2 separate regions of the Homo sapiens genome follow, and region 1 is linked to region 2. Evidence: fine-mapped expression QTL. A gene starts in region 2. The other region holds a variant in brackets. All regions are shown on one strand. Distances are from middle to middle. Region 1 holds the start of LOC124903819 (a long non-coding RNA gene). Region 2 holds the start of ANKRD65 (ankyrin repeat domain 65).

Region 1 (15,893 bases), 290 kb after region 2:
CAGGTGGCCCAGAGGCCCAGGTGCAGCCCCTGCCCCGCCCAGGGCCCGACCATCCCAGCCCAGCCAGCGGGGGTGTGGGGTCCCCACCATCCCACAAAGGCACGTGGGGCCAGGTCCTCAAACTGACCACCCGGCCGCCCCTCCTGCTGCCTCCCCCCAGGCCCCGCCAGTGCCAGGGAAAGGGTTAAGTCCACCTGGCGACCGCACCTTTGTTTGCCCGAGAGCTGCACCTGCGCCCCAATTAACGTGGGCAAATGAAGTGAGACCGGGTCCAACAGGAAAGGAACCGCCCTCCTGTGTGCCAGGCGGCCCGCAGGGACCCAGGGCAGGGCCGGCTCGACACGCCCTGCAGCTCCCACCTGACCCCCTCCTGCCTCCCATCAGAGAAGCTGAAGCTCCCTGTGCTGGATCCTACTTTCTCAGAAGGTTTTAGGCTGGCCACTCAGCACCCCACACAAACACAGCATCTGGCCTAGCTCCTCTGCCCTGCCCAGCACCCACAGGGCCTCCACCTCCACGCCCACCGTCCCCAGTCCCCACCCTCACCCCCATCACCGTGTTTCTCAAAGCCCTGTCCCTTCCCCTTCCCTCGACCACACCATAGGCCAAGGGTTGCAGTAGCCCCCAGCCCAGCCCCCAGGCACCCAGAGGGCTGTGAACAGTGGGCCCCAGGCACACAGGGGGCTGTGAACAGCAGCAGGCTCCTTTTGGCCTTGGCCCTCTCAGCATGCAGCCCCCTGTCTCTTCAGTGGAGTGAGAGGGGCCGGCCTCTTAGCCAGGACTGGTTTGTGCCACCAGGGACCACACCAATTCCAGACCTGGGTTTTGGCCCCTGGACAGAGTACAAAATGCAAAAGCAGAATTTCCAGAAGCCGGACCCTGTGAGCTGCAGAAGCCGGGCCCTGTGAGCTGCAGACAGAATGAGGCGTGTCGGGATGGGAGACACCCGTGCTTCCAGCATTGCAAGGAGAATGTGGAACGCTCCGGAACCCCTCACCCTCAGCCTTGCCCACGGGAGCTGGGGCAGTGGCCCCTGCCCACCTGCACTCACCAGCTGTCCTGGCAGCGTGAGACCAGCCTGGTTGAGGTCTTTATGTCAGAGACCTTTGAACCAGAGCAACTCCATCTTGCACAGGGCCTGGGTAAAATGAGGCTGAGCCCGGCTGGGCCACGTTCCCATGAGGTCAGGCATCCTTAGTTACAGGATGAGATAGGAGGTTGGCACAAGACTGGTCACAAAGACCCCGCTGATAAAACAAGATGCTGTGAAGAAGCCGGCCCCAAATCACCAAAACCAAGACAGCCAGTCCTCACTGCTCATTATGCGCTGATTATAATACATTAGCATGAGAGACACGCCCACCAGCACCAGGACAGTTTAGTTGCCACGGCAACGCCAGGACGTTACCCTAGATGGTCTAAAAGAGGGAGGAACCCTCACTTCTGGGAATTGCCTGCCCCTTTCCCAGAAAAGTCCGGAATAATCCACACCATGTTTAGTACATATCAAGAAACAACAATAAGTATTCTCAGTGGAGTAGCCCAGGCCGCTGCTCAGCCTATGGGGCAGCCCTTCTCTTATTCCTTTACTTTCCTATTAAACTTGCTTTCAGTTTATCAGTGGACTCCCCCAAACTGTTTCTTGCTCGAGGTCCAAGAGCCCTCTTTGGGATCCCTTTCCGGTGACATTTACGCCCAGGGAATTTGTGCCCAAATGCACAGATCAGGCCCCTACCCTGAGGGCCCCCACTGCCTGCGACCATCCCATTCCAGACTCTCCCAGGCCCCTCCCTGGGGAGGGAGGTGGCAAGACCCTGTATCCAGGCCCCCGTGGTGGAGTGGGGTCTCCCGAAGGCCCAAAGGATACGGGAGGAGCCCCCGGGTGGTCAGAGCATCGGGGCGGGGAGGGGACGGTGACCCCGGGGGATGGACAATGGCTGCAGCCAAGATATCTGCCTGGGGGAGGTGGGATCACGGGTGGGGTCTCCAGGAGTGGAGGCCTCGGTGGCTACACGGAGATTCAAGCCCTTTGACGCCGCAGGCAAAGTCAGCCAGGACCCCATGGGTCCGTGACTCAGGAAGGCCCCTGGGAAGCCAGCCATCGCTGCCCAGCCCCCAGGGAGCCTGGCGAGTAAGCCACCCCCTCACGGTGTCCCCCTCCTGAGAGGGGCTGCAGCCTCAGATGGCGAGGAAGCCACACCCCTCACGGTGCCCCCTCCTGAGAGGGGCTGCAGACTCAGATGTCAGATGCTGCTGCGGGATGTACCCATCGGGGAGCCTCCCCACGGGGCCACCTGCTACTGTGGGGCTCTGCGCCTGCACGGACCCCCACCGGCCTCCAAATGTGCAAACACAGGCGCCTCTCAGGCACTCTGGGCCCCTGTTCGGCGGAACGCTGAAAAGGGCTGGTGCCCATCCCACTGAGGGTCCTGCGGGCACCTCAGCAGGACAGCGGACCCCGAGGAGCTGGTGGAGACACCCAGGGCCCTGCGAGGCCTCAGCCTCCCCGTGTCGCGGGGCCGTGTGCAGGGTCTGGGTGTAGGGACAGCCACACTATGCCAGGCCTGCAGGAGACCCCTCCCCCCTGAGGCAGCCCCCTGGTCCCTCGGGGAACTGGATGTTACTGGTGCTCCCAGGACAGCACAGAACTGTTTAGGGAGGGAAGCACTGGTGACCTGTTCTGGTTTTTGAGAGTGGAGTCGGGGTGGCGAGGTGAGGGGGTGAACGGTTTGACAGTGGAGTTGGGGTGGCGGGGTGAGGAGGTGAATGGTTTGGGACAGGGCAGAAAGCAGACGCGGGCATGTGGGGAGGGGGGCGTGAGGGATTTCGCCATGCGGGGATGTTTTGACAGCACTGGTTACCTGAGGCCTGTATTTCTTTCTTTTTTTTTTTTTTTTTTGAGACGGAGTCTCGCTCTGTCGCCCAGGCTGGAGTGCAGTGGCCCCATCTCGGCTCACTGCAAGCTCCGCCTCCCGAGTTCACGCCATTCTCCTGCCTCAGCCTCCCGAGTAGCTGGGACTACAGGCGCCCGCCACCACGCCCAGCTAATGTTTTGTATTTTTAGTAGAGACGGGGTTTCACCGTGTTAGCCAGGATGGTCTCGATCTCCTGACCTCGTGATCTGCCCGCCTCGGCCTCCCAAAGTGCTGGGATAACAGGCGTGAGCCGCTGTGCCCGGCCTTACCTGAGGCCTGTATTTCTTAGGAGAGAGAGAAAACCACTAAGTTTTCTTGGACACAGGAGGGGACCTCAGCAAGGAAGCATGAGCAGCCGCCCTTTTCCAGGAAAAGAAAACAAAATCTACGTCCTGGGAAGCTTTCCCTCCCCACGTCAACCACCTCCCCAGCCAGACCTGTGGAAGGGAGGCTGGGAGGCCTCAGAGTAGGGCCAGTGCCTGCGTAGGGTCAGTCAGCGGGGAGGAAGTGGAACATTAAACCCCAGGCGGAGTCGTCCTGGCCGCCGGCCCAGCCTCTGCCTGACGCTGGGGTCAGAGCCCAGCATCTGCTGAGGAGGCCGGGCAGGCAGGCGGCGGGCAGGGCGCAGGGCGAGGGGTGCAGCCACCGGGAGCCCCCCACACCGGACCCCGAGCATTGAGACTGCAGTGCCCACCCAGCCGGAGCGTCATCCTTGGCAGGACCCCACCAGGAGGGATGTACCAGGGATGCTGGACACCCAGGCCCCGCCACCCCAAAACAACGTCTCCACGTAAACCCAAGCGACCTTCCCTGGGGTGGGTGTGACCTGCCCTCCCCACCACTCTCAGGGCAGTTTTCTCCACCTGTAGCTCCCCCGGGCTCCCCAGGGTTCCTGGTCCTTCTCCTCTGTGTTTCCTGCTTGCTCCTAAAACTCAGCTTTCAGGCGGAACACACAGCCCGGAACCACCCTGCTCTCAGGCGGAACCCGCGAGCACACGCAGCAGAGCTCTGCTCTTCCTGGGGTTTTAAGGATGAGACATTGCAAGGTCCCCCGGGCTACACAGTGACCCCTCTGGCAGGTTGTGCCCCCAGAGTTCATGGTTAGAATCCAAACTCTCAGTACCAACAACGCGAGCGTGTGTGGAGAAGGGGCTACGAGACAGGTGAGTATGTGGGAAGCAGCCGTGAGGATGAGCCCTGGCCGGGTCCCACTGGTGTCCTAGTTGCAGGAGGAGGTTAGGGCAGAGGGACACGGGACGGACCTGCGCAGAGGCCGCCTGAGAGAAGGCAGCAGCGGGAGAGGCCTCCGCAGAACCAGCCCGGCAACCCTGGGACACCGGACCTTCCCCTCCCCCTCCGAGGCTGTGAGAAAATACATTTCTGTTGCTTAAGTCCCCAGGCTCGGTATTTTGTTCCAGCAGCTGGAGCTAGGACAACCCCAGACGCACCCGGCCAGCCCTGAGGGAGGGCGTTCACCGGCTTCCCATACGCATTGTAGGAGGCCGCATGGGCACCCTCCTCAGCCCTGGGCACCCTTGTCGTACCTGACAACCCTGTGTAGATTCCCTGCAAGCATCCAGGGTCCAAGGCGGCCGCAGGCTCCTCAGACAAAGGGCTTCCTCCACACATGGGCTCAGGGCTACGGGCTCCCTGACATCGACCTCCCCGGCAGCCGCCCTGGTGTTTCTCCCATTTGCCAGCGGACACATCCCAGGTGACACCCCACCTCGGAAGAGGCCCTCCTGGCAGGTGCCTGGCCCCAATGCCCAACGCAGGGCTCGCGGCGGCGATGGCGGCGGGTCTCAGGCAGGAGTGGGATCTCTCTGCTGTCCGGTCCTGCCCCTTGCCCCTGAGAGGCCCCACAACCCCACCCCCAGCACACCCTGCATGGGCACCCCCGTCTCAGGCTCTGCCTCCCGTGCCCTGACCCTGGGCGCAGAGGGCCACGTGCCTGTGACTCCGCTTCCCTGGCGGTGAGGGGTCCGGCCTTGTGTCCCATGACTCGGGCTCTGCTCCCTGACGACCTCGCTGGGGCTGCCCCCACCCTTCCGTGGAGTCCTTTGCGACGGTTTCTAAGGGCTCAGAGTGCAGCATTGATTTCAACCATGTGTCTCTGTCATTAAAATAGTCCCCTGACTTTGCCTGTGGAATGTTTTGCTCTCTTCCCATTTTAAGTTAAATGTGGTCAGTGTGACGGAAGGAAATGCGGGTTTTTCTCCAGACCGTCTTGTGCAAGGAGAAGAAGCCTTGAAAAGAAGAGGCACAAACTATCAGGAACGTCCTCGAAGAGATGAGCGAAAGCACGTGGCCACAGAAAACCATGAGGATGCAACAGAAAGAACGACTCCGAGGGGCCGGGCGTGGCGGCTCACGCCTGTCATCCCAGCACTATGGGAGGCCGAGGCGGGCGGATCATGAGGTCAGGAGATCGAGACCATCCTGGCCGACACGGTGAAACCCCGTCTCTACTAAAAATACAAAAAATTAGCCAGGCATGGTGGTGGGCACCTGTAGTCCCAGCTACTCGGGAGGCTGAGGCAGGAGAATGGCGTGAACCAGGAGGCGGAGCTTGCAGTGAGCCGAGATCACATCACTGCACTCCAGCCTGGGCGACAGAGCGAGACTCCGTCTTAAAAAGAATGACTCCGAGGACAGAAACGAAAAGCGCTGGAAGGGACGGAGCCAGGACGTTCCCCGAACGTGACGTGAAAAGGCAAAGAAAATGGGATAGAAAAGGTGATTAGAGGACCTGCTCCAAATTGCAGCAATATTCACCAGAGAAAGAGAGAGCAACAACAAAAAGAAAAGATAAAGAACAAAATCATTTAAAAATTGTAATTCAAGAACATTTCCTGGAGCCGAAGCTCAGGCATTTCCAGACAGAAAGAGCCACTGAGGACCCCGTGAAAGGGATGAAAACGGAACCACACAAAGATCCACCTTCACAGGACAGCAGAGATGGAGACAAAAAGAAGGCCCCAAAAACTTTCAGGAAAAAACCCGCAGAAACAGGTTCCATACCAAGGCCCCGGGGTTGGGATGCCATTGCCGGACCCACAGCAGCCTCGGGAGCCGGGGACCCTGCGGCGAGGTTTTCTCAACTCGCAGGGAAGCGAAGGCCTTGGTGGGGGCCCGCCCTGTGCCCTTCACAGGCAGCTGCAGCTGTGGGCGTGGTGGGGGCCCACCCCCTGCACCTCACGGGGAGCTGCGAGGGGCTTGTTCCACCAAAACACTGAGAAGACAAGAAAGGGGAGGTGTGGGGCCCGGGAAAATCCCACCCAGGGGAGAAGCAATGGGACCTTTGTGACACGGACCACGAAGCCTGCAAGACGCCAGCCCTGCCCCAGGCCCGAGGGAGCCGACCAGCCCCGGGCAGGGCAGGAGGCTCCCGGAGGCCCCTCAGAAATACCTGGCGTGCCGGAATTTAAGTCATGGGGGAGAGTCTGAGGCTGAATTAGTAATGAGTTCAGAGAAAGCTAAGCAAGAAGAAAAGCAAAGGCGATTATTAACTTCAGGGAAACAGCTCAGAGTTCGGGTGAGAACAGGCGGCCACGGTGGACCTGGCACCAAGCTAGTCCCCGGCGCCCAGCAGAGTGACAGCAGAGACCAGGCGCGGCGCGTGACGGCGGGACGAGAGGTGGGAGGGCGGCAAACAGCCCCTTCCACAGGGCAGATTCAGGGCTGACCCTGAAGCTGGAGTGCTGAGAAGCTGCCGTTTGCCAGTGACGTTGGAAGTAAACACAGGAGCCTCCCAGCACACGGAGCTGGTGGCCTCGGCGCGGCCTGAAGATCATATGTGTCCAAGCCTTGCAGAAGTGTTTGACTCTCAAGCAACCTACAGGCATAACTGGTTTTTTTTTTTTTTTTTTTTTTTTTTTTTTGAGACAGAGTCTCACTCTGTTGCCCAGGCTGGAGGGCAATGGTGCCATCTGAGCTCACTGCAACCTCCGCCTTCCAGGTGCAAGCGATTGTCCTGCCTCAGCCTCCAGAGTAGCTGGAATTATAGGTGCCCGCCACCACATCCAGCTAATTTTTTTGTATTTTTAGTAGAGACAGGGTTTCATCATGCTGACCACGCTTGTCTCGAACTCCTGACCTCAAGTGATCCGCCCGCCTTGACCTCCCAAATGCGAACCACTGTGTCCGGCCACAAGCATAACTTTGATAGAAAAGGCAATAACAAATTAAGTTGGTGCGAGCTTTACCCTCTGAGTCCTCGGAATCATTTTTAAAACATAAAGGTTTCCAGAACTCACAGCTGTGAACTTAACTGTTCTCAAGGGGGTATCTTTGATTGATTTTCCTAACTCTTCTACGATAATCGGCCTTTTCCCCTCTTCTGCTTCCTCTCGTTCTGGCAGCCGATGCTCACATCCATAACAGTGTCTGTTTCCCTGGATTTTCCCATCCCAGGGCCACGCAGAGTGCAGCTCCCCTACACGGCCACGGCATTCTGTCCCTCTGTCGCGTGGCCATGCGTGGCTCAGTGCCGTGGGAGCCTCTCCGTGTCTGAGGCCGAGGGCAGGCTGGTGCCCCATTCGCTCTGTGCCTCACAGGCGGCCCTGATGCTCTGTGCTCCAAATCTCTGCAGGACTGGATTTCGGCCGGGACAGAGGAGGCTGTGCCCCCACCCACGTTGTTCCCAATGCCCACGCACCTTGTCAACTGGAATAAATTTGGTTTCCCTGCAAGAGCTCTCTGCCAGGAAATGTAAATCATGGCTTCTCAGTCTCTCTCCCCCTCTGAGGGCCCCCTGGCTGGGTCATTCACAGGCCCCGAGGAACTCTGGGGCCTTCGCAGCCATCTTTTCCTACAGGAACCCCCAGACACCCATAATCATCACGGGGACCCAAGACCCCAGCTTCTCCCGGGGGGCACATGGTCACCCTGTGGCCCCCTCCAGGCATCTCCG[C/G]TCAGGCTGTGGGACCCCAGGCCCGGCCCACCTGGCCAGCACAGCCCTGCAGGCCCCAGCTGACCCTCACCACCCCCCAGCCAATAGCAGAAGCCGCCAGCCCTGGGGAAGGCCCTCCGGCTGAATCCCTCCTCTTCTGAGGCCTTGCCCTCCCCGCGGGCTCCGCCTGCCACAACTGTGCCCTGGGCTCACCAGCGGGACCCCCAGGTCCTCCCCAGCACACCATGGAGGCCCCTAAGGGCTGGGCCTTGGCCAGGCGACTGGGGAGGGGCTGGTCCCGGAAGAAAAGCTTTGTGGGGCCGTGGGTGCGGGGGCTTTCGGCTCATCAGAAGCCACCAGCCCTTGAGACAAAACCTCCCAGACGCTGTGGGTCAGACCCACAGAGCCTCAGTCCTACCTGGTCCTGGGAGGGCGGAGGGCGGTGTGGGCCTGGTCCCAGGACGGCGGAGGGCAGTGTGGGCCAGGCGCGGACTCCCCCGGGCGCCCTCATGGTCTTATCTCTGCCCGGCCGGCGGAAGGCGGCGGGAACCTTTGCCTGGTACAACCACTACTGCTCCACAGCCCAGGAATTTGGCATTGAATAATTTTTAACTTCTGCTCTGAGAGAGGAGCTGGCCTTGGATTTAGTGTCCGTGCATGCAGGAATGCCGGGGCTCCATTTTCAAGTAAGTGCCTCGCGGAAAGCCGGCCTCGGAAAAGCAGAGAGAAAAGAGCAAGAAAAGTCAGAGGGGCAGGTCTGGCTGGCATCCAGCGGTGGCCAAGCCCGCAGCCCAGGTCTGACCTCACAGATGGACAGCTCCCCATGTGGGAGAAGCCGCGGGCATCTGGGGGGGGCACCAACTCCCTGGGGTCTAAAGCAGGGTTTGCGCTTCCTGGCAGGGGGGAAAGGCTGCACCTCACACCTCTCTGGGTGCAGAGCGGCTCCGGGACGGCTCCCCTCTCCTGCGCGCCCGCCCCACCTGTAACCCCAGGCCTGGTCCCGCATGATATGTTTGAATGCCAGAACCCGACGCAGCCCGCGCCACGCCCGAAACCTGCACCCCCGTCTTGCAGTCGCTGCCCTTGGCAGTCAGCACGAGCACCAGACCTGGGGGTCCTTCTGTGCTTGTCCGAGGCTCAGGCCTGTGACCCTGGCTGCTGGCTGCCCCCACTCCCACAGCACGGGCCACCAAAGCCCCAGTCCTGGGCCACAGTGGGGCGGTGGCGATGACACCCAGGGCCCTGCGGCTGAACGTGGCCAGGGCTTCACAGAGACCCGGGGCCGCCTTGTCTCCAGCCACGGTGGAGGAGGCAGCGGCCCTGTGGCTCTGCCCATGGAGTTGGGAAACATAAGGCCCAAAAGCAGACTCGTCCTTTAACTGAGTTTCGCTGGGGCCGGCTTGGGGACCCACCTCTCACGAGAGCACTGGCCTGCCGGCATGCCAGAGCCCCTGACACCACACAGGAGCCGGGTGGGGCTGGGCGTAGCCCGTGGTATCGGCCCCCCAGACCTGGCCACCTAGGCCCAGGGCAGCACCCGGGGAGGACGGGGGTCTGGGTGGCCGGTGGCTTCCCGTGGCCGCTGCTCAGCCCCACTCTGTCCAGCCCCCTGGGAGTGGCTGTGGAGGGCATCCTGTGTGCTGGAGGGGCAAGATGGGGAGGGCTCTTGTCCAGAGACCCAGGGGTGCCGTTTCAGAAAACAGAGCATCATGTGCTGGGACCAGACACAGCTCATCTTTTCCAGGGGACGGCGAGAAGGACACGCTCGGTTCCGCACTCTCAGGCTCCTGCTCCTCACAAGGCAAGCGCCTCCAGGGAGCTGCATTTGGGAAAATATCCACCAAGCACTAAAGAAACACAACCATAAAGAACCATAAAGCATCCACGCGGAAAAGCTTATTCAGATCAATAAAGCTGCGGCGGGCCGGGCACAGTGGCTCACACCTGTCATCCCAGCACTTTGGGAGGCCGATGTGGGTGGATCACGAGATCAGGAGATGGAGACCAGCCTGGCCAACATGGTGAAACCCCGTCTCTACTAAAATACAACAAATTAGCTGGGCGTGGTGGCACGTGCCTGTAGTCCCAGCTACTCAGGAGGCTGAGGCAGAAGAATTGCTTGAACCCAGGAGGCGTAGCTTGCAGTGAGCAGAGATTGCACCACTGCACTCCAGCCTGGGTGACAGAGCGAGACTCCGTCTCAAAAAACAAATAAATACATAAAATAAAAGTAATAATAATAAAAAAACTGCAGCGAGGGCCCAGCGTGCCCACCACTCATCAACAAGTCAAAGCGCGAACCCTGTGGGTGCAGCAGCCGGACCTCGGGTGTGCTGGCTTTCCGACACCCAAACCAGCAAACCTCACACCCGCTGCTCGCGGAGGGCCGCTGAAGCCGCAGCGAGGTGAGCGAGACTCCCCACTGGGGACAGAGAAAGACCCCTCCTCCCCCAAGTCACAGAAAGACCCCGTCTCCCCCAAGGCAGAGAAAGACCCCGCCTCCCCCATGGCAGAGAAAGACCCCGTCTCCCTCATGGCAGAGAAAGACCCTGCCTCCTCCATGGCAGAGAAAGACCCCGCCTCCCCCAAGGCAGAGAAAGACCCCGCCTCCCCCAAGGCGGGCGGATCACCTGAGGTCAGGAGTTCGAGACCAGCCTAGCCAAAATGGTGAAACCCCGTCTCTATTAAAAATACAAAAATTAGCTGGATGTGGTGGCGGGCGCCTGCAATCCCAGCTACTCGGGAGGCCGAGGCAGGAGAATTTCTTGAACCCAAGAAGCAGAGGTTGTAGTGAGCCGAGATTGTGCCACTGCACTCCAGCCTGGACGACAAGAGCAAAACTCCATCTCAAAAAAAAAAAAAAAACAGAGAGAATTCCAGGGAGGAGGTCACCACGCCGGTGCCGCCCCGGGAGCAGCTCACACTGACTTCACAGACGCACAGGGAGGCCATGGCGCAGGACAGGCAGACCGGCTGGCAGGCCAGCACTCCAGGCTGCTGAGGGGCCGCTGCTGCCAGCTGACGGGGAGGCCCTCGGCCCCCACCCCGCGGCCCCTGCCCTCCTCCGTCCCCCGTCCTTCCCGGGGGGTCCCTGACTGTGACGGACAGCAGTGTGTTTGGTGTCTCCTGTGCCTGCGGAGCGGTTCTGGAGTCTGTCTATGGAGTCTGCTTGTTTGAAGGCTGCTGTGACTTTCTTATATTTATCAGCAAATTTTGGGGATTTTTTTCCAGCGGGCGAATGGCCCAGGGCTGGAAGCAGGGTCCGTGCTCCCCCGAGCTGCTCTCCTGGGCTTCTTGAGGGCTCAGCTCTCCGGAACGAGGTGGATTGAGGATGGGTCCCCTCCAAGTACACTCCACCCCAGGCCCAGCACGAAGGGTACAGAGGGCGAAAGTCTGGATGGGATACCCCAGCCTGGGAATCTGTGCTTGCCTGGGACTCTCAGCAGGAGGTTGGAAGAGGACGGAGGACCCAGGACTCTTTCTGCACAGGGCCTGGGCCATCCACTCTTTGCCCTGGGGTAACTTGAGGGCCTGTGGAGGAAACATCTTTCCTGGAATCCTGGCCTGAGAGGATGCTAAGGGTTAACCCCTGAGGCTGACCCCAAGGGCGTCCATTCCTGCATAAAAGGCCCAGCTCAGCCAGCCCCATCGGCCACCTCTGTCAGGGGAAGAGTGTAGCTCAGGTGAGGTGTCGGGCGGGCCCCTGCTGGCCTCAGAGTCCACCCCTGCAGGCCACACCTCGGCCGCGGCAGTCCCTTTGAAGGAGAGGAAGGCCTGGAGGAGAGGCCTCGAGGCAGACACACACCCTCCCCTGTCCCCGCCACGGTCCTCCGAGCTCCTCCATGCCTGCTTCTGTGGTAGAGGCTCCTGTGGGGGCAGCTGTACTGGGCCCTGAGACCAAGCACTTCCCTGTGGGGTCAACAGGCCACCTCACTGTCTGAGTGCCACCCTGGGGCGTCTTTCTGGGCCACAGCCCCGGGAGCCGGGAGCTCCTCCAGCACCATGGCCTTCCCTATCCTCTCATCAGAACAGAGAGAGCAGGCACGGGGGCCGTCTTGTACCACGCAGACCAGGCTCCAGCAGCCGGGGCTCCCACCGCCCCTGAACCGATCTGGGGACTCACGGTCAGAGGCCCCCCTTTCCCCACATCCCTCCTGCCTCCCCCAGGCGGACAGACCCCTCGGCCTCCACAGCCGCTCAGCGGCTGCCCTGGGGAAAGCCTTCCATGGCCTTCGTCCTGGTGAGCCCTTATTTGTCAAATAAATATTTGCCCAGGGTGGGGCTTGCCACTCAGGGTCAGGCATTAAATGAGCCTAAAGTCCGCGGAGCCTGCAGCAGTGCCGTGGCCCAGGCCAGCAGCAAGTGAGGGGGAGGCTGGACCAGGGGTCTCTGCCTGACCTGGATGCATCTTCCAGCGCTGAGCTCCTGACTCACAGAGACTCTGCAAGGCCAAGGGGTTCTTGGGGTCTGGAGAACGTGGAGACCCCGGAGCTGATGCGAGGCAGCCTCTCCCTGGGTGGGGCAGTGGGTGGCGAAGGGCCCCACCCTCAGCCTGCGAAGCTCCTTCCAAAGAGAACCTGCAGTGCCTGCCCTGCCTGTGCCCACAGGGCTGCAGTTTCCAATAGAACAGAGGCTGAGGGAACCCGGGAATGTGAGGTCTCAGAGGCAGCAACCCCACGCATGTGGCAGCCCCAAGCAGTGAGCGGACTGGGTGCAGGAGGAGGCCCCAACCACGCCCAGAATTCACGTGGCTTCCTGCATGAGTTAGCTGCTGCCGTGTAACAAGTGACCCCACATGCAGTGGCTGGAACATGCACGTTTACCACGTCTGCTTCCAGAGCTCAGAAACTCAGAGCTGTGGACGTAGCAGGAAGCACAATTGCGAAGTGGACAGGGTGGTGGTTTCTCAGAGCTCAACTGCAGGGCATGTGTGTGCATAGGTGTGTGCCCAGGTGTGTGTCCAGGTGTGTGTGCAGGTGTGTGCCCAGGCGTGTGTGCATAGGTGGGTGCCCAAGTGTGTGTGCAGGTGTGTGCTCAGGTGTGTATGCAGTGGTGTGCGCAGGTGTGTGCACAGGTGTGTGTTCTCAGGTGTGTATGCAGTGGTGTGCGCAGGTGTGTGCACAGGTGTGTGGCGTGTGTGCAGGTGTGTGCGCGCAGGAGTGTGCACAGGTGTGTGCTCAGGTGTGTGTGGCATGTGCGCAGGTGTGTGCAGGAGTGTGTGCAGGTGTGTGCGCAGGTGTGTGCAGGTGTGTGCCCAGGTGTGTGCTCAAGTGTATGTAGAGTGTGCGCAGGAGTGTGTGCAGGTGTGTGCTCAGGTGTGTGCTCAAGTGTTTGCAGATACGTGCTGAGGTGTGTGCGCAGGTGTGTGCTCAGGTGTGTGCAGATGTGTGCTCAGGTGTATGTGCAGGTGTGTGTGGTGTGCACAGGTGTGTGCATGGGGGTGTGGGTGGGGTGTGCTCAGGTGTGTGTGTAGGTGTGTGCACAGGTGAGTGCAGATGTGTGCTCAGGTGTGCGCAGGTGTGTTTTCAGGTGTGTGTGCAGGTGTGCTCAGGTTTGTGCACGGGTGTGTGGCGTGTGCACAGGTGTGTGTGCACAGGTGTGTGTGCAGGTGTGTGCACTGTGTGTGCAGGAGTGTGCGCAGGTGTGTGTGGCGTGTGCGCAGGTGTGCGTGCAGGTGTGTGCTCAAGTGTGTGCTGCATGAGCTTCCGTACTTGCTCCTGGGCTTCTCACTGGCCAGGGCTGGTGTCCAGGGCGAGCCATCCCAGGCAGAGCACACAGGACGCAGCGTTTACAGCCCCATCTGGAGAGCACCACCTTCACTTCTGCCTTTGTCCACAAGGGAGGGGCTTGCATGGGGGAAGAGTAAGCGCTGCCTACCCGGGGCCCTGGATGTAGAACGGCCTGCAGCCAGGACTCCCGTCCGGTGTGTTTGGTGTTGCTGTTTTCCTGGAAGCCTCTGCGTCCCATCTGCGGGTTTGCTGGTACTGGTGGCTGACCGGTTAATGGTATGAAGTAGAGCAGTTTTGAGAAGCTCTGCATTTTGTTTTAGCTTCATGCAGGCACACACGACCCTGCGGGGCCAGGAGAGCAACTGCGGAGAAGGCTGTGCCCTGAGGCGGCAGAGCTGAGGCCAACAGCAACCGCAGAAGTGTGGGGCTTGTCCTCGTGCTGCTCCTCAGTGTTCCTCTTCATTTTCACAGACACAGCTCCGTGCTTTGCACGTATTTCACCATCTGTGTCATATGTAATTAAACTGCATCCTTGCACGGCCAAAGCTCTGGCCTGCGTCTGAGTGACTGGCGTCCCTACGGTGAACCAGGGTTTCCTGTGTGGACGCAGGACTTTGGTGCATAGAGACCCGCGTGAGGCAGAGGGGCTGGTGGATGGGGCCCCAGGTGGGCGTCTGGGGTTCGAAGCTGGGGTGTCTGCCCCACGCTGGCCCCAAGGGTGTTGGTCACAGGCCCCACCTCCCCACGGGCGAGGGGCACCCCTTGATTCAGGAGGTAGAATGTGGCAACAGAGAGAGGTGCCATGGGCACGGGAAGACGCCCCCACCTCGCTGAGTCGCCAGCAGGTAGGAAGGGGGGCCCCTGAGGCACGGGGGCCGTCGGGGGATGTGAGGATGGCTGTGGTCTGAGCTTCGAGGTGCCGTAGCTTCACTTCCGAGGGAGCCGGCCTCACAGGCCGAGGCCAGGGGGCCTTCTGCCACCCACCCAGCCCGGCGGGGCTGCCTCCCATCAGCTCCGAAGATCCCCCAGGTCCTGAGAACCCCTGCTCAGGGTCTCCTGAGGAAGGTCCCGGCCACACTGCCTGACTTCCCGGGCAGGAGTCGGAGCGGCTGGGTCGGCAACGCCAAGTGCAGTGCCCAGGTCCGGGCCCGGCACCCGTGAGGGAGAGACGCCACCTGCAGGCGGGCTCAGGGACCTGGCACTGGGGAGACGAGGGTCCGCGGATGCCCCAGCCTGTGCTCCCAGGGCCCCACGACCCAACCCGAGAGTCTCTGCCTGGGTGCCAGGCCCACTGAGGCCACAGGGGAGGGCGGAGGGTGGGGTCCCGGGGAAGCCATGGCGGGACAGAGGCCCCCCAGCCTCCTGCCCAGCCAGGCAGCCGAGCTCCAAAGGCAGCTGCAACCATCGTCATCTCAGCCCTGGCAAGGTTGAGGCTGTCCCACAGCCGCCGGAGGCTCTTTAGCCAGCACAGGACAGTTTCTAGGGAAGAGACGCCCCCCACACAGAGGGTTCCTGAAGCTCTGAGGAGGGAGCACCCACAGCCCAGCCCGCTGGTCCCCACGTCTCCTGGTCGTCCATCGGCCGAGAGCCCAGTGGGCATCAGGGCCAGTGGCTCAGCCTGGGAGGCTCCAGGACCTCAGGGCTGGCACCCCTCTGCCCAGAGCAAGGAAGGCCCCACCCCACCCACAGAACAGGCGCCACGTGAGGCTGGCCTCACCCCTGGGCCTGCTGCGGCTGCTGTAGGGGCAGGAGTCCCAGATGGGGTGGGGTGGGGGAGGGGGGGCAATCCCAGGGGGCAATGGGGGGAGGGGCAGCGTGGGCACCGGGAGGGGCTGGGGGTCGCCACAGCCCTGTTCAGCGCAGAACACAGGGCCTGCCTCCGCAGAGCAGGAGGCTTCAGCCTCGTTGCAGGGCAGCAGCCTGGCTGGGGAGGAGGTGGGGCCATGAACAGCACTTGCCTCCTTTAATTAGGGGATTAACTGCGTGCTGATAATTGAGCCTCCCCCAGCACCTGCCTGTTTGGAAGAGCTAACACCTCCACCTGCTCCTCCCTTAGGCAAGGAGGCCTCTGGGCCCTGCATGTCGGTGTGGGGGGGTGGACAAGGTGTCCAGGCTCAGCACTGCCGGGGGTAAAGGGCACCCAGCTGCAGTTCTGAGCCTCCCTCGTCCACGCACGTCCTGGTGTAGCTATGTGGGGACTGAGCCCCTTCCCCGTGAGCTGAAGAGCACCCCCCATCAGGGAGGCACGGCCTGGCCTGCTGGGAAGAGCAGCCCTTCTGGGAATGGCCTGCGGATAATTGGAGTCCCAGTGCAGTAGGAAGCCAGCGAGCCTTGGCACGCCAGCCCCAGGGACCGCAT
Region 2 (12,696 bases):
AGCCATCCCGAGCAGAGGAAAGGCAGATTTTCCAGGACAAGAACCTGTGTTCCATCATTTTTTTTTTTTTTTTGGAGACAGTCTCACTCTGTCACCAGGGCTGGAGTGCAGTGGCACGATCTCGGCTCACTGCAACCTCTGCATACCTGGTTCAAGTGATTGTCCTGCCTCAACTTCCCTAGTAGCTAGGACTACAGGCGCTCACCACCGCGACCAGCAAATTTTTGTATTTTTTTTTAAGTAGAGACGGGGTTTCACTGTGTTAGCCAGGATGGTCTCGATCTCTTGACCTTGTGATCCGCCCACCTTGGCCTCCCAAAGTGCTGGGATTGCAGGCGTGAGCCACGGCGCCCAGCCCATCATTTCTAGTCAGGGGCAAAACTTTTCCCATCCAAAACCCCAAGCATTTTCTCTGAACGTTACTCCCGACTCTGACTTTTTTTTGAGACAGGGTCTCACTCTGTCACGCAGGCCGCAGTACAGTGGTTCAATCACGGCTACGGCAGCCTTGACCTCCTGGACTCGATCAGTCCTCCCACTTCAGCCTCCTAAATAGCTGGGACTACAGGCACCTAACCACCGCGCCCGGCTAGTTTTGGTATTTTTTGTAGAGATGGGATCTTGTCACGTTGCCCACACTGGTCTGGAACTCCTGGTGTCAAGTGATCTGCCTGCCTGGGCCTCCCACAGTGCTGGGATGACAGGCATCAGCCCCCGCGCCCAGCACAGTCCCTGACGTCTGTCCGTCTCCCAGGGCTTTATTGCACGTCAGCAGTTCCAGCTCCATTTTCTTTTCTTTCTTTTTTTTTTGTCGAGGAGGAATTTTTTGCTCTTGTTTCCCAGGCTGGAGTGCAATGGCACGATCTCGGCTCACTGCAACCTCCATTTTCCAGGTTCAGGCAATCCTCCTGCCTCAGCCTCCCGAGTAGCTGGGATTACAGGCGCACACTACCACGCCCGGCTAATTTTTGTATTTTTAGTAGAGGTGGGGTTTCACCGTGTTAGCCAGGATGGTCTCAAACTCCTAACCTCAGGTGATCTGCCCGCCTCGGCCTCCCAAAGTGCTGGGATTACAGACGTGAGCCACTATGCCCAGCCTCCAGCTCCGTGTTCATAATTAATTGACAGGAGTAGGTGTCTGTGAGCTGAGCCGTTCCCTGTGAGGCCTTCTAGTGGGCTCCATCCCTTCCAACACCTTCCAGGCCTCTCCAGCTCACCTACTTCCTTCAGACTTGTGAACAAGAAGGAGAGTGGTACCATGTGGCGTGTGACATCTAGCAGGGCAGCAGAGGCCTCCCTGCAGTGTCCCTACAGCGCTGGGCACGGTGGCTCACACCTGTAATCCCAGCATTTTGGGAGGCTGAGGCGGGTGGATCACTTGAGGTCAGGAGCTTGAGACCAGCCTGGCCAATTTGGTGAAACCCCGTCTCTGCTACAAATACAAAAATCAGGCCGGGCACGGTGTCTCATGCCTGTAATCCCGCACTTTGGGAGGCTGAGGCGGGTGTATCACCTGATGTCAGGAGTTCGAGACCAGCCTGACCAGTATGGTGAAACCTCCTGTCTTAAAAAAAAAAAAAATACAAAACTTAGCTGGGCCTGTTGACACGTGCCTGTAGTACCTGCTACTCGGGAAGCTGAGACAGGAGAATTGTTTGAACCCGGGAGGAGGAGGTTGCAGTGAGCCGAGATCAAACCATTGCACTCCAGCCTGGGCAACAGAGCGAGAATCCATCTCAAAAAAAAAAAAAAAAAAAAAAAAGTTAGCCAGGCATGGTGGTGGGCGCCTGTAATCCCAGCATTTTGGGAACCTGTGGAAGGCGGATCACTTGAGGTCAGGAGACCAGCCTGGCCAACATGGTGAAACCCTGTCTTTACTAAAAATACAAAAATTAGCCGGTCATGGCGGTGGGTGCCTATAATCCCAGCTACTTGGGAGGCTGAGGCAGGAGAATCACTTGAAACTGGCAGATGGTGGTTCCAAGTGAGCTGAGATCACACCACTGCACTCCAGCCTGAGTGACAGAGTGAGACTCCGTCTCAAAAATACAAATAAAAAGTTTTAAAAAGTTGCAAAACCTCTGCTTTCTAAGTGCCCCCCAACCAGGTCTCTCGCTTATTCATTCAACAAACACTGCTGAACTGCTACTAAGTCCCAGGGACTGTCATCGGAAAAGGAGGTCCCGATCCAGACCCCGAGAGAGGGTTCTTGGACCCCACACAAGGAAGAATTCGGGGGAGTCCACGGAGTAAACTGAAAGCAAGTTTAATAGGAAAGTAAAGGAATAAGAGAAGGGCTGCCCCATAGGCTGAGCAGCGGCCTGGGCTACTCCGACGAGAACACTTATTGTTGTTTCTTGATATGTACTAAACATGGTGTGGATTATTCCGGACTTTTCCGGGAAAGGGGCAGGCAATTCCCGGAAGTGAGGGTTCTTCCCCCTTTTAGACCATCTAGGGTAACTTCCCGGCATTGCCATGGCAACTGTAAATGGTCCTGGTGCTGGTGGGCGTGTCTCATGCTAATGTATTATAATCAGCACATAATGAGCAGTGAGGACTGGCTGTCTTGGTTTTGGTGGTTTGGGGCCGGCTTCTTCACGGCATCCTGTTTTATCAGCGGGGTCTTTGTGATCTGTATCTTGTGCTGATCTCATCCTGTGACTAAGAATGCCTGACCTCCAGGGAATGCGGCCCAGCCGGTCTCGGCCTCATTTTACCCAGCCCCTGTTCAAGATGGAGTCGCTCTGGTTCGAACGTCTCTGCAGAATCACTCCAGGTTCTTTGGATTCATGGCAAAGGGGCTGCGGCCTCTGCCCCTCCGTGCCCCACTGTGTGTGGGTCCTACAAGCATTGCAGAGGCAGCTGTGGCTGCCCCCACTGCGGTGGAACCCGGGAGACGGGAGTCTTGGGAGGGGCCTCCTCGAGGTCCATTCTAGCCGCTGTACCCCTGGGAAGCTGGCGTGAGGTAGTTTCTGTGGCCTCCCTGGCCCTGATGAGTACGGGACTTTCCACCCAGCCCCCAGAGCTCCTCGCTTCTTTCCCGGTCAGCCTTACGGAGCTTTCCTTCTAGAAGAGGAAGGCAGACATTTAAATAAACACATAGATACTTTCCTGTAGTGATAAATGCTAAGAACAAACTAAAACAGGGTTAGAGTCGCACGTTGCCTCAGATCCACCTGTGGTCAGGATCTGGGAAGGTGACGGATGAGTAGCCTGATGAGGTTTGTAGGGCAGGGTCTGTGTGGCTTGGGGGGTGGTGGGATGGGGCCCCTGGTCCCTTGGGCCCTTGGAGAGGCAGTCCTCTAGGGAGTGGGGGAGGCCAGACCAGGGCCCTCAGGAGACCCTGTCCTTGGGGACCTGGGAGGCTGAAGGGGGCTGGGGTGGGAATGGGTAGCCCTCATTACCTTTCCCGTGCAGCCGCTGGAGGGGCCAGGCTGCTGCAGCCACCCCAAAGAGCCATGCTCCCTTCTCCTGCCTGGCCCCAGGTACTGGGAGACAGGAAGATGCCCTCAGCACCAGCCCCACCCATCCTGCCCCAGGCCCCCAGGATCCCGCTGCCCCAGGCCTTGCTGGGGCAGAGCTGCTTTTCCAGATGCAGACGCACCCTAGCAGGGATTCTCCCCACTCTCCCGCCTGCCCCCCGACCCCCGCCCCCACCTGCCCAGGCATCTGTCCCTTCCCTGGCTCCAGACTTGCCCCAGCCAGTCCCCAAAGGGTTTTCGTCCCTCCCATGCCAGCGCCACCCTCTTTTCCAGGCCACCTGCCTGGAGTCCTTGGTGAATCTTTTGTCCTGTCCAGCATTTACAGAAAGGAAGGCCAGAACCTCACCCTGCCCTCCTCCCCAGCCTGGAATCGGGAGGAGGGGCCGGCACCCACCCCTGGGTGGGCTTAGCCAGCTGGGACAGGAGTGGGTGAGGGGGCTGCCCGAGGGTGGGCCCCATGGAGAGCCCTGTGAGGCCTTCCAGGGGCACATCGGGGTACATCCAAGGCTGCGCTTCCTGGGGGAGGTGGCGTCTGAGCAACTTTCGTCCACAAGCATGTTCCTGCTTGTCCTCCCCAACCGCCTGGCCTTTGTTCCCCAGGAGGGCAGCCGAACTGGGGCCCTGGCAGCCAGCAGGGGAGGGAGTATGTTGGACAGGGGGCTGTGCCCGAAGGCAGGGCCTTCCTAAGTGGCTGAGTAAACAGCGTCAGGTGGCCTCAGCCTGGCCCAGGGGACCAGCTGTGTTCTCCCACCCCCTGCAAGGCTGAAGCTGCCACCATTCAGCTTTTCAGCAGCAGACACTCCACCCCAAAGCCTGCAGAAGGGATTTTGTGAAGAGGGTCACCAGGCTGAGCCTCGGCCAGAACCCGTCTACAGAGGACCCTCAGCCAGAGCAGAAAGCTCCTGAGCCAGCTCCCTTGGGTAACAGAGCCAAGCCCCTCTGAAGGCTAAGTGGTAACTGGAATGGGGGGCTCCAGTTGGCCTGGGACACGGCTGGGGGCAGGCCAGAGGCCTCCACAGTGGATGTAGGATCCCTGCTCCCCCCCAGATGGACTCCCAGAGGCCTGAGCCCAGAGAGGAGGAGGAGGAGGAACAGGAACTGCGGTGGATGGAGCTGGACTCCGAAGAGGCCCTGGGAACCAGGACAGAGGGGCCTAGTGTTGTCCAGGGCTGGGGGCACCTGCTCCAGGCCGTGTGGAGGGGCCCTGCAGGCCTGGTGACGCAGCTGCTGCGGCAAGGTGCCAGCGTGGAGGAGAGGTGCACCTGCGCTGGGGGGTGAAGGGGTCCCTTCTCTGGGTGGGGCAGGATGGGGGTCCCAGCACTGGGTGGGTGGAGGAGTCCCTTCTCTGGATGGGGTAGGACGGGGGTCCCAGCGCTGGGTGGGCGGCAGGACGGGGTGGGGCAGGGCGGGGTTCTGGTCAGTGGTCCACCCCCGCGCCGACGCCCTTGCCCCCTCCTCAGGGACCACGCAGGCCGGACCCCGCTCCACCTGGCCGTGCTGCGGGGCCACGCGCCCCTGGTGCGTCTCCTGCTGCAGCGAGGGGCCCCGGTGGGCGCGGTGGACCGGGCGGGGCGCACCGCGCTGCACGAGGCCGCCTGGCACGGACACTCGCGGGTGGCCGAGCTGCTGCTGCAGCGCGGGGCCTCGGCGGCGGCTCGCTCCGGGACGGGCCTCACGCCGCTGCACTGGGCCGCTGCCCTGGGCCACACGCTGCTGGCCGCGCGCCTGCTGGAGGCTCCGGGCCCGGGACCCGCGGCAGCGGAGGCGGAGGACGCGCGCGGCTGGACGGCGGCGCACTGGGCGGCCGCGGGCGGGCGGCTGGCGGTGCTGGAGCTGCTGGCGGCCGGCGGCGCGGGCCTGGACGGCGCCCTGCTCGTGGCTGCCGCTGCGGGGCGCGGGGCGGCGCTGCGCTTCCTCCTGGCGCGCGGGGCGCGGGTGGACGCCCGGGATGGCGCGGGGGCCACAGCGCTGGGTCTGGCGGCCGCCCTAGGCCGCTCCCAGGTACGTCCCGCCCTCCGCCCGGCAGTGATGGGAGGGGGCGCAGGGCCAGGATCCCCAGAGACGTGCCACCGGGGCAGCTGGAGCCAGGCTGGGGGACGGTGTCCAGGCACGAAGGCCCTGAGCGCGCCCCCGGCTGTGCCCCTCCGGTGTAGCCCCGTCCCGTGGAGACCAGGGCGGGATCCGAGGCCCGGGGCTCGGCTTCATGCTGGTGGCAGCAACAGACTCTCCGCCAGCGCCGGGCCTGTGCCTGAGACCCCCGTTCCTGGGCAGCGGGCAGGGTGTTGGCTGCAGATCCTTGGATTTGCTCTAAGGACTCTTAGGGGGAAAAGTGGACGTTTCCAAGCAGGCCAGCCTTGGGTTCGGCCTCACAACATGAGGAAGTGGTGTCAGGAGAGACAGGCCGCTGCGGGGACAGAAGAGGCCTGGGCTGGGCAAACGCCTGGTGGCTCTGCCCCTCGCCTACCGGGCTGAGGCCGGCCCCTGCTTTTCTCTCCTCTTCTAGGACATTGAGGTGCTGCTGGGCCACGGGGCAGACCCAGGCATCAGGGACAGGCATGGCCGCTCTGCGCTGCACAGGGCTGCCGCCCGAGGACACCTGCTTGCCGTCCAGTTGCTGGTCACCCAGGGGGCCGAGGTGGATGCGCGGGACACCCTGGGCCTCACACCCCTGCATCACGCCTCTCGGGAAGGCCACGTGGAGGTTGCCGGCTGCCTGCTGGACAGGGGTGCCCAGGTGGATGCTACCGGCTGGCTCCGAAAGACCCCCCTACACCTGGCTGCAGAGCGAGGGCATGGGCCTACCGTGGGGCTTCTGCTGAGCCGAGGGGCCAGCCCCACTCTGCGGACGCAGTGGGCCGAGGTGGCCCAGATGCCTGAGGGGGACCTGCCCCAGGCGCTGCCTGAACTTGGAGGGGGGGAGAAGGAGTGTGAGGGCATAGAGTCCACGGGCTGAGCCAGACAGCAGGCTCCAGGCTCCACCGCCCCAGTGATTTCCAGGCTCTCTGGCTGAGGCTGCCTGCCTGGAGGGGACATCAGGGAAGAGGCTTCCGGAGGAGGGGATGGGAGAAAGTAGGGGATGTGGCTTGAGCTGCAGTCACAGGCCTTGGCTGGACCAGGGATGGCCCCCAGCTCCCAGGAGGGCCCACTGACCCTGCAGCTCCAGCCTTCTCCATACTTCAACAAAGAATGAGTTGTGGCAATGAGGGAAGAGAGACCCTCTCATAGTGTTTTATACTCAGTACCTGTTTTAAGAAAAAACAACAAGGAAGTAAAACCAAAGACAGGCAGGCAGCCTGGCGCTAGGCCCGAAACCAGGCCTGCGCCTGCCTGGCCTAAACCCAGTAGTTGAAAATCAATTCATAACTTAGAAACCGATGTTATTCATAGATTCCAGACATTGTATAGAAGAACATTTGTGAAACTCCCTGCCGTGTTCTGTTTCTCTCTGACCGCCGGTGCATGCAGCCCCTGTCACGTACCGCCTGCTTGCTCAAATCAATGACGACCCTTTCATGTGAAATCTTCGGTGTTGTGAGCCCTTAAAAGGGACAGAAATTGTGCACTTGGGGAGCTCGGATTTTAAGGCAGTAGCTTGCCGATGCTCCCAGCTGAATAAAGCCCTTCCTTCTACAACTGGGTGTCTGAGAGGTTTTGTCTGCGGCTCGTCCTGCTACATTTCTTGGTTCCCTGACTGGGAAACGAGGTAACTGACAGACGACCGAGGCAGCCCCTTAGGCGGCTTAGGCCTGCCCCGTGGAGCATCCCTGCGGGGGACTCCGGCCAGCCTGAGTGACGTGAGCTAAAGAGCGCTCCCGGGTAGGAAATTGCCTCGGTGGAACACCTCGCCAGAGCAGCCCATAACGGGCCCCCATGGTGGATTAACACAGTGGCTGAACACCGGGAAGGAACTGGCACTTGGAGTCCGGACATCTGAAACCTGGTAAGACTAGTCTTTGGAACTTGCCCCACTCCACCTGAGTAGACGCGTGGCCTGATCGCCCACGGCGTGCCTGCATTAGCACCTTTGTTCTGGTTTTGACTTGACTGAGATCATGTGATACTTTGGTTTTGGTTTTGACCTGGCTTGGATTTCTGGATACTCTGATTTTGGTTTTGATTTTGGTTTGGTGTAAACTGCAAAAGTGTGTGTGTGCCCTTTTTACCTGTTTTTTGTTTTGTGGTGTGAGCGTGGTGTTTTGTCTTGAAGAAGCGTGGGTCAGGCACAGATAAGCCCACCCCACTAGGAACTATGTTAAAAAAAATTTTTCAAGAAAGAATTTAAGGGAGATTACGGTGTTACTCTGACACCAGGAAAACTTACAACTTTGTGTGAAATAGACTTGTCAGCATTAGAGGTGGGTTGGCCATCAGAAGGAAGCCTGGACAGGTCCCTTGTTTCAAAGGTATGACACAAGGTAACGTGTAAGCCAAGGCACCCAGGCCAGTTTCCGTACATGGACAGTTAGAGCAGGTTTTAGACCCCCTCCCCCCTACGGTAGTTAAGAGAACAGCAGCATAAGCGGCTGGCAGAGGCAAGGAAAGACCAGCAGAGAGAAAAAGAGGCCATCTATACCAATTCTAAGTTAATTTAGACTAAACAAGGTCTTATTAATAGCAAAGGATAATTGAAATCCCAAACTTCCAAGGTTTTCAACAAAAGCGAAGTTTGCTAAAAGTTAACAGTGTAACATGTTAATGGTAACTTTTAATCTTGTGGCCTCAGACAGTCTAGTCCAAAGACATAAAAAAAGTTCGCTTTAAAAAAGAAAAAAAAAGGGGAGGCTGAATTTATGTGAAAAGCATGTTATACGGTAAATTCTTGTCCTGAAATATATTAACTGGTTGTTTAAAAGTTTGTAATAAGGCAGAAAGTTGAGATATGTTGAAGAATTGTCGGCGAAAGTTGTAAAACAAAATGTTATAAAAAATTTATGCAAAAAATGTTGTATAATTTAAAAGTAATAAGGCCTCCTGAGTACTATTTTTTTTTTTTTTTTTTTTGAGACGGAGTCTCACTCTGTTGCCCAGGCTGGAGTGCAGTGGCGTGATCTCGGCTCACTGCAAGCTCCGCCTCCCGGGTTCACGCCATTCTCCTGCCTCAGCCTCCCGAGTAGCTGGGACTACAGGCGCCCGCCACCACGCCTGGCTAATTTTTTGTATTTTTAGTAGAGACGGGGTTTCACCGTGTTAGCCAAGATGGTCTCGATCTCCTGACCGCGTGATCCGCCCGCCTCGGCCCCCCAAAGTGCTGGGATTACAGGCGTGAGCCACCGCGCCTGGCCCCTGAGTACTATTAAAAAAAAAAGTTTATGTGCAAGGTGTACAAGAAAAGTAAAATATACCTTTGGTAAAAAAAATTATAAAGGGGCATAAAAATATGGATTTTTACCTACATTAAAAGGTTAAAAAAATTATTGTTTTTAAGAGTTTAAGCAAGTTTTAAAATGTAAATTGTAAAGAAAATTCTGTGTGTAAACATGTTAACTAAAGTTAAAAAGGTATCGTCCAGTTTTTCTGTGAACTGGACATTAAAGTAAAAATGCAACAGGTTTTTCTTAAAGCATCAACCTGCTCTTTAACAAAAGTTATAAAAGGTTAAAAAGAGTCTATAAAATCTTACCTTATGGTCAAACATGAAAAATTGGATAAATATGTCTACAAGGTTTTATTAAAATTAAGTTTAACATTAATAACACACTAATATAAAGGTAAAATTTAGCTTATCTGGTATAAAAATCATACAAGAAGCATTATTAAATATAAAATGGTGTTTAGCTTTCTTTGGTCTAAAAACTAATAAAAATAGGTGCTAAAGGAAACATTCATTTTACTAGAGGATCATGGAAGTTTAAGACTTAAAACAAACTTTGGCAATTAAGACAGCATACCAAGATGCAAAATGCCTGGTTGAAATGGATCAGATATTCCATCTGATGTTAAACAAAAGCAATTGTGATGCTCGTGCACATGGCAGGCCAAAGGCTCTGATTGTCCCCCTTCCACTAAGGTGGTCCTTCAGTCGACCAGGCGTGGGCTGCACGGTAGCTCTTTTCCAGGATTCTACAGCCTGGAGCAGCAAGTCATGCCAAGCTCTCCCCGCTACATTCTGCAGTCCCTGCGGGTCAGCCCCCGAGGGCCATCCAGCTTCCGTCTCCCAAAACTAAGTTCCCTTCGTGTCTCTCACGGCAGGGAGGAGACTTAGCAGTCCTTGGAGACTGGAAGGGATGCAGTGAGCTTAAGAATTTTCGAGAGCTTATCAATCAGTCAGCCCTTGTTCATCCCTGAGCGGATGTGAGCGGATGTGTGGTGGTATTGTGGTGGACCTGTACTGGGCACTCTGCCGAATAACTAGAGTGGCACTTGTGCTTTAGTCCGTTTGGCTATCCCTTTCACCCTGGCATTTCATCAACCAGAGGAGAAAAAAAAAAAAAGACATCGTAAAGCGAGAGAAGCCCCTTATGGGTCTTTCAACTCTCACATCTATTTAGACGCAATTGGAGCCCCACAAGGGACACCAGATCAATTTAAAGCTTGAAATCAAATAGTTACAGGATTTAAGTCAATATTTTGGTAGATGACAGTCAATAAAAATGTAGATTAGATAAACTACATCCATTCCAACCAACAGCAACGAGCTTTTCATGAGTCAAAAAGAAAAACTCATGTCAGCCCCAGCCCCGAGGCTACCTGACCTGACAAAACTCTTTACACTCTATGTGTCAGAAAGAGAAAAAATAGCAGTTGGAGTTTTAACCCAGACCGTAGAGCCCTGGCCAAGGCCAGTGGCCTATCTCTCAAAACAACTAGACGGGGTTTCCAAAGGCTGCCCCCCTGTCCAAGGGCCCTGGCAGCAACGGCCCTGTTAGCACAAGAAGCAGATAAGCTAACTCTTAGGCAAAACCTAAAGTCCCCCCATGCTGTGGTGACTTTAATAAATACCAAAGGACATCATTAGCTAATGAATTCTAGACTAACTAGATACCAAAGCTTGCTCTGTGAAAATCCCCACATAACCACTGAAGTTTGCAAAACCCTAAACCCTGCCACCTTGCTCCCAGTATCAGAGAGCTCAGTGAAACTTAACTGTGTAGAAGTGTTGGACTCAGTTTATTCTAGGGGGCCCAACCACCGAGACCATCTTTAAACATCAGTAGACTCGAGCTGTACGTGGACGGGAGCAGCTTCGCCAACCCCTGCAAAGTGACTCTGAAGAAGACGACAAGCCCTGCTCCAGTCACACCCGGAAGCTGACTGGTCCACGTACAGCCGAAGCATGAGGAAACTCATCGCGGGACTCATTTTCCTTAAAATTTGGACTTGTACAGTAAGGACTTCAACTGACCTTCCTCAGACTGAGAACTGTTTCCAGTATATACATCAAGTCACTGAGGTAAGACAAAAGATTGCTACAGTCCTATTATTTTATGGTTATTGTAAGTGTACCAGGATTCTAAAAGAAACTTGTTTGTATGATGCTATTCTATCCAAGGTATGCAGCCCAGGAAATAACCAAACTGATGCGTGTTATGACCCATTTTAAGCCTCCCATGATCACAGGACTGGTCCTTTTCTAGGTGACACAAGTAAGTTAATAGCTAGAACAGAAGAAAGAGGGGTCCCCAAAAATGTAACCTTAAAATTTGAGGCTGGTGCCGCTATTAATAGTTAGCAGCATGGAATAGGATGCAGTTCTCTAAATTGGAAAAAAAGTTACACAGTAAAAAAAAAATAAGTATATCTGTCAAGAATCACATTTATGTGAGATGTGTCAATACTGGTCTTGTGTCATTTGGGCTACTTGGAAAGAAGATAAAAAAGATCCTGTTTGGCTCCAAAAAGGAAAAGTCAGCCCCTCCTGCACGAGTGGGAGCTACAACCTTTTAGAATTGATAATCACAAACCCTTCAGACCCAAAGTGGAATAAAAAAAAGTGTTAACATTAGGCATTGACAGAAAAGGCTTAGATCCTAGCGTAAGCATCCTAATAGAAGGAGAGGTTCAATAACGCTCTCCACAACCATATTGCAGACTTTCTATGATGAACTAAATGTGTCAGTACCTGAGATTCCAGCAAAAACTAAAACTTTGTTTTTGCAATTAGCCGAACATGGAGCCCAGTCTCTACAAGTCACCTCTAGCTGTGTTTGCGGAGGAACCGTAACAGGAGATCAGCGGCCATGGGAAGCCCGAGAATTAGTTCCTACAGACCCAGTTCCTGATGAATTCCCAGCCCAAAAGAACCACCCTGACAATTTTTGAGTTCTAAAAGTCTCAATTATTGGACAGTATTGCATAGCTTGAGAAGGAAAAGGATTCACTCATCCTGTAGGGCGGCTTGGTTGTCTTGGGCAAAAGCTGTATAACGGTACCACAAAAACAGTTACATGGTGGAGTTCCAATTACACAGAAAGAAATCCATTCAGTAAATTTCCAAAGTTGCAGACTGTTTGGGCCTACCCAGAACTCCACCGGGACTGGACGGCCCCCACCGGGTTATACTGGATATGTGGACCCAGAGCTTATGCTAAGCTGCCTGATCAATGGACAGGTAGCTGTGTAATTGGCACCATGAAGCCATCTTTCTTCTTACTGCCCATAAAAACAGGTGAACGTCTGGGCTTCCCAGTCTATGCTTCCCGCGAAAAACGAAGCATAGCCATAAGTGATTGGAAAGATGATGAATGGCCCCCTGAAAAAATCATACAATACTACGGACCCGCCACTTGGGCAGAAGATGGCTCATGGGGATATCGAACCCCCATCTACGTGCTCAACCGAATCATACGGTTACAAGCTGTTTTAGAAATTATTACTATAAACCTGGTCAAGCCTTGACTGTTCTTGCCCGGCAAGAGACTTTGATGAGAAATGCTAGCTCTCAAAATAGACCAGCTCTTGACTACTTGCTAGCAGCTGAAGGAGGAGTTTGTGAAAAATTTAGCCTTACTAATCGTTGTCTACACATAGATGATCAGGGGCAAGTAGCTGAGAATATAGTTAAAGATATAACAAAACTGGCACACGTACCCGTGCACGTGTGGCATGGACTCAATCCAGGAGCCATGTTTAGAAATTAGTTCCCAGCAATAGGAGGATTTAAAACTCTTATAACAAGAGTAACAATAGTAATAGGAACCTGCTTACTGCTCCCTTGTCTGATACCTGTATTTCTCCAAATGATAAAAAACTTCATCACTACCTTAGTTCACCA

Evidence for each region.
Region 1: its variant is fine-mapped to the expression of ANKRD65 in prefrontal cortex (GTEx, PIP 0.95).

What each region holds. Positions count from the first base shown.
Region 1 is chr1:1,121,090-1,136,982 of GRCh38, reverse strand. LOC124903819 (a long non-coding RNA gene) reads left to right here and starts at 7,999. Exons shown (of 2, transcript XR_007065349.1): 1 at 7,999-8,492; 2 at 9,551-14,080. LOC124903820 (a long non-coding RNA gene) reads right to left here and starts at 8,299. Exons shown (of 3, transcript XR_007065351.1): 1 at 8,225-8,299. RefSeq lists silencers at 1-17, 38-97, 14,635-14,974, a cis regulatory region at 1,049-2,133 and an enhancer at 13,208-14,026. The variant C/G (reference allele first, on the strand shown) is at 7,828.
Region 2 is chr1:1,412,842-1,425,537 of GRCh38, reverse strand. ANKRD65 (ankyrin repeat domain 65) reads left to right here and starts at 4,262. Exons shown (of 4, transcript NM_001145210.3): 1 at 4,262-4,405; 2 at 4,533-4,741; 3 at 4,946-5,486; 4 at 5,989-7,118. The coding sequence starts at 4,533. The coding sequence ends at 6,438. ANKRD65-AS1 (ANKRD65 antisense RNA 1) reads right to left here and starts at 5,372. Exons shown (of 2, transcript NR_187360.1): 1 at 4,974-5,372; 2 at 2,251-3,069. RefSeq lists enhancers at 1-142, 6,593-7,042, 7,210-7,289.